Linked DNA regions of Homo sapiens: region 1 is linked to region 2. The links come from fine-mapping of genetic effects on gene expression. A gene starts in region 2. The other region holds a variant in brackets. All regions are shown on one strand. Distances are from middle to middle. Region 1 has its middle 27 kb from the start of LINC02265. Region 2 holds the start of RHOH (ras homolog family member H).

Region 1 (2,918 bases), 83 kb before region 2:
GGTCCCTCCCACAACACATGGGAATTATGGGAGCTACAATTCAAGATGAGATTTGGGTGGGGACACAGCCAAACCATATCACTCCACTTCCAGGGTGTGGAATGTATAAAAGGGCAAAGAAAGAGACTCCGAGTTATATCAGTGAAGTTCCCTTCAGGGGAGGGAAGAAGTGTGCCCCACAACAAGCATCTGTAACATTGAATCACATGAAGAAAGTGTTCATTTACATAATGTCTCCCACTTCCAACTGTAAGCCCCTTAAGGGAAGAATTGCGATTTATTTATCATTGTTTGTCAAAGTCTTATACTCAGAAGACAAGCAAATGTTTGCTGAATGAATGGAGACCTAGAGTCTAGATAGACCTAAGTTCAGTTCTCCTCAGCAAATTACTACAGAAACTTGAGCAAGTTATTTACCCAGAGGTTGTAAACCGATGGCCCACAAACCACATCCAGCTCTAATATGATCTCTTTGACCCCCCAGTGTCTTAAAAGTTTGTAAATTCGATGAAGCTTTTAAAACTTGGGAGATTTCACATAAAGATCTGGATCTCTGGCTTCTGAAAACTTGGAAGACTTATGGTAGATTGAGGCAAAAAAAATAATGGCCTCAATTTTTCACCCCTCTCTTTGTCTACACACTGTGCAACATCGCTTTCAGTTCTTCCCATAAAGGCTGAATATATCATCCTCCTTTGTCTCTGGATTGGATTTGTGACTTGTCTTGGTCAATAGAATGTGACAGAAATGATAGTTTTTCCATTCTGAGCCTGGACCTAAGAGACCTTGTACACTTCCTCTCTTTCTTTCTTGGAACCTTTGAAGACCCCATGTGAACAACCTTGGGCTGGCCTGCTGAAGGATGAGAGACCATACCAAGTTGTCTCAGTTGTTCCAGCCAAGACTCAAGACATGTGAAGGGACCTAGCCAAGATTAGCAAAGCCAGCCCACCGCTCACCCACCTGCTAACCACACATGCATGAGCAATTCCAGCCAAGAGTAGAAGGCCCAACCACCTGATTCATAGGTTGTAGACAATAATAAGTGCCTATTGTTTTAAGCTACTGAGCTTTGGGGGTAGTTTGTTACATAACAATAACTAACTGAAACACTTGGCCATGTAGGGCCGGCTGTTCCTCATCACAACACTTAACTGGGGCTGGGCACAGTGACTCACACCTGTAATCCCAACACTTTGAGAGGCCAAGGCTGGAGGATCGCTTGAGCCCAGGATCGCTTTGAGACCAGCCTGGGCAACATAGCAAGACATCGTCTCTACAAATAATAATAATAATAATAAAAATTAGCCAGTTATGGTGGCATGCACCTGCGGTCACAGCTACTTGGGAGAGTAAAGTGGGAGAATTGCTTGAGCCCAGGCAGTCAAGGCTGCAGTGAGCCGTGATCATGCTACTGCACTCTAGCCTGGGTGACAGAGTGAGACCCCATCTCAAAAAAAGAAAAAAAAAATCTTAGCTGGGGCTGAGTAGCCCCTTGAGATGAGGCATGAATTTTGCAACTTCCAACTGCATGCCAACCACTATCATCTCAATGACTAT[A/G]CATATTTGTATACCAAAAGAGATTGAGAGAACTGTGTAGTCTAAGAAAAATTAGAAAGTGGAGGAAAAATTTACAGATTGCTCTCCATCTTCATGGGTTCTGCAGCCATGGATTCAATCAACTATTGATAGAAAAGATTTGGAAAACAATATTGCATCTGTACTGAATGTGCACAGACTTTTTTTCTTGTCGTTATTTCCTAAACAATACAGTATAACAACAATTTACATAACATTTACATTGTATTTGGTACTGTAAGTAATCTAGAGATGATTTAAAGTATATGGTAGGAAATGCATAGATTATATGCAAATACCATGCCATTTTATATTAGGAACTTGAGCCTCCCTGAATTTTAGTATCCTGGGCTGGGGATCCTGGATCCAATCCCCTACAAATACCAAGGATGACTGTATGTTCTTACTCTGACTCCCTGTACCTGCTTAATTTCTAGATACACTTCAGTTTGAGCTCTTGTTTTAATCCCCTCAGGCTTCGTCTGTAAAAATGAGGTTAAACACATATGCATCAGAGGATTCTTTAAGGATTAAGTTAGGTTTAGCGAATAACATTGGGGTTTTTTTGTTTTTTGTTTTTTTTTGAGACGGAGTCTCGCTCTGTCGCCCAGGCTGGAGTGCAGTGGCGCGATCTCGGCTCACTGCAAGCTCCGCCCCCTGGGTTCACGCCCTTCTCCTGCCTCAGCCTCCCGAGTATCTGGGACTACAGGCGCCTGCCCGGCTTATTTTTTGTATATTTAGTAGAGACGGGGTTTCACCGTGTTAGCCAGGATGGTCTCGATCTCCTGACCTCGTGATCCACCCGCCTCGGCCTCCCAAAGTGCTGGGATTACAGGCTTGAGCCACCGTGCCCGGCCAGCATTGGGGTTTAATGCATAAATTCCAGAGCTAGACTGCCAGGGTTAAGATCCCAGTTTTGCCACTTACTAACTAAATCCATGCATTGTGCCTACTACTGCCCTGATAGATGTTCAATAAAGCTACTTTTGTTCCTTTCCCTTGTTAAAAATCTTTCTAATCTTCACATTGTTTCAGCATGTTGTTATCAATCAAAGCTAACTTTAAAGGAGATTATTATTATTTTATTTATTTATTTATTTATTTATTTATTTATTTATTTATTGAGATGGAATCTTGCTCTGTTGCCCAGGTTGAAGTGCAGTGGCACGATCTCTGCTCACTACAACCTCCACCTCCTGAGTCCAAGCAATTTTCCTGCCTCAGCCTCCTGAGTAGCTGAGTACAGGTGCATACCACCATGCCCAGCTAATTTTTGTGTTTTTAGTAGAGATGGGGTTTCACCACATTGGCCAGGCTGATCTCAAACTCCTGGCCTCATG
Region 2 (2,918 bases):
GTGCCGTGAGAGCCGAGGAAGCGCAGCCGCAGGGCAGAAGGAGACCAAGGACTATTGAATGGGGTCACTTCTCCCCAGTGCCTGCAAGGTCCTCGCTTTTGTGTCCACACCCTAACTGTCTAATCTGATTTCCTGCAATGTGTAAAACAAACTGTCTTCTCTTCTCCAGTGTCTCTTCAACTGGCCTTATCATCTCCAGGTCAGTCTCGCCTTTGTGCCTTTGCCCACAAGGTCCTCCCAGTCTGAAATCACCTGCCCCTTCTCCTTCTACCGACACTTCGCATTCTTCCAAAGCCCAGATCTTCCTGACAACTCCAGTTTGCCCCCAGGCCCCCTCCATGGAATTCACAGAACTCTTCAAGCCTGTGCTGCCCCACTCATCACTGAATTCTCATCTTGCATTGCTTCCTAAATTTTACTTCTTATCACAACTACCAGATTATAGGGTCCTTCAAAGTAGAGATTTTTAAAATATTTCTCTTATATCCTCCACGGCACCAGCTTAGAACCAATAAGGGGACACCAACTACTTGTTGCCTGCTTGAATACGTCAATGGCAACTTTCATTTAGTAAAGCACCTAAAACCGGTGATTTCCCAAACTTTGTTTAGTTACAACTCAGGCTACTGACTGGTACCTCGTAGCATATCTCCAAATCAAACCACCTCAGAAGAAAGATTAAATTTAATTAAAAAATACATGTTATACATCATAGAGCACTTTTGGGAAATGGTCATTAACATTGGCAATAGGTGAAAAACACAAGCTAGAAATTCCAGATTGAAATCTACATCATTTAGACTTCGGTTCTGTTTCTTTTCTGAACTAGACAACTTTAAAATTCATATTTGCACAACTTAGAGCATCTTTAGATTTACTTCATCAAACCTTGGGTAGTATTTAAACTACCCATACAGTTGAGCTCAGCCACAGTCACAAGCATATGCATTCTCTAGAATATCTGGAAAACCAAAAAGCCAACTATTGTAACTTTTCATGTTTCAAAAATCTTGTTAGGACTGTGGTGAGGGGCAGTGAATATCAAAGCAACACTCACCCCCCCGACCCCCGTCCCCCTGTAAATTGATTCTACACCTTACAGCAGGTAGCTCAGAGTCATTACGATGTTTGGCCTAGAGTAAAAGCTAAATAAAATTAGAAAAATTTCTTTTGACACCAAAGAAATACTTTTAAGGAAGCAAAATCCTTACCTGTTGCAGAATGCCGAAGAAATGTCTTGACAGTAAAATGACTGACTCCGGAAATCAAATTTGTTCAACAAAAGCAGGTGAAAACAAAAGCGGCCCAAGCCTTTTCACTGTGGTTGATTTCCTCATAGGATCAACCTCTCCCTCGTTCCCGAGAATATTAACTGATTCACACTGGAAGAACTGAAAATACAACAGTTGGGCTGGCAGGGAGTCCACCCCAAGATGGTTGGGTTAGTGTGTGTGGGGCAGCAGGAGCAATCCGAATGTGACAAAAGAGATTAGCAAGTTCCTGTGCCTAAGTCAATTTCCTGTAGCCGGCTTCTCCGCAGAGGGGGTTTCATTTGTGTGGGTTTAGGGGGGTGTGTGTGCACGTGCGTTTCTCTCCATTAGAATATGAAACTTCCCCAGATCAGAGGCAGAATAAGGCCTTTGCCGCACCGCTGGGTTTGCGTTTAATTTATCCCCCACCCTACTCCGAGACTATGTTTCTCTCCCCCTTAGCCCCATTTTCCTCCAGCAAAGCCCTACGTAAAACTGAAGAAAGGAAGACTGAAGAGTCCAAATGATTCCTCATGGAAGTAAAATTACCAAAAAAAAAAAAAAAAAAAGTCCATGCCACTGACCAATCTTGGTTAATTTGAGCTTAGGAAACAACACCTTAGAACTTTCCCCCCATCAGCTTGGGGAAAACAAGAGGTGGATTGTCTGCTTCGCTTTGCTGCATTAAAAACTATCAAATATTTTGCAAAGAACAGAGGCAGGCTTAGTGAGAGTTCGAGCAGCCCCCTGCCGTGCGTTCACCCCTGTATGGACGAGCACCTGGGCTGGGAGTTACCTGGCGATGAGTTGTTTTTTCAGACTCCTCAGAGTTTCATTATTTGCCTAAAAACACAAGTTTACTTGTTTTGTCCTAATGGGCAATCCAGGTGTAGAGACCATCTGCAACTACTTAGGTTATGGCTAAACGCCTAACCCAACAAATTGAACTTTTGTGATGTGGTCACAACCGCCTGTGCCCCAAATCCCTGAATAACTAACTGTTGATGCTACTGCTCACGGTGATAGCTTGGTCAAAATACCTGCCGACCGTAAGGATAAAGTCAACTCCATGCCTTTTATTTTATTTTATCAGTGCATCGGCCCCACACTCAAAGATTTGAGTTTAATTGAGCTGGGTTGGGACCGGACATCAATATTATTTTAAACCCCTCTGATTATTCTAAAGTACTGCTGCCACTCTAATGGATGAGAAGGAGGAAAGAACATTCCACGTAGAGGCAAATAGTATGTGCAAAGGCCCTGAGGTGGGAAAGAGGTTGGCATGTTCAAAGAAGTGAAAGCAGATGACTGTGCTTGCAGCATAGTTGTAGAGGGAATCAATGGTACAAGGTGAGCATTCTTATCAATAGACACCCAATTACCAAGTTCACAAGACTTCCACATGAACCCATGTGTCAATTTGTTAATGCACAGTAAGAACTCAATCTGCCAGCTGAGATCCTCGAGCCTTCTGAAGAGCACATTATCTCCTAGAAAATCCTCTGTGGGAGGCCAGGTGCAGTGGCGGTGGCTCACACCTGTAATGCCAGCACTTTAGGAGGCTGAGCGGGGAGCATTGCTTGAACCTAGGAGTTCGGGACCAGCCTGGGCAACGTAGTGAGATCCCATCTCTACAAAAATTAGCTGGGCAACCACACCTGTAGTCCC

What was found. PIP is the estimated chance that this variant, and not a neighbour inherited with it, causes the effect.
Region 1: its variant is the best candidate, but not a certain one, in a credible set for the expression of RHOH in whole blood (INTERVAL, PIP 0.57).

Annotation. Positions count from the first base shown.
Region 1 is chr4:40,278,830-40,281,747 of GRCh38, reverse strand. No RefSeq gene overlaps it. Among named protein-coding and RNA genes, the nearest start is that of LINC02265, 27 kb to the left of the region's middle. The variant A/G (reference allele first, on the strand shown) is at 1,561.
Region 2 is chr4:40,195,594-40,198,511 of GRCh38, reverse strand. RHOH (ras homolog family member H) reads right to left here and starts at 1,481. Exons shown (of 3, transcript NM_004310.5): 1 at 1,212-1,481. RefSeq lists an enhancer at 409-508.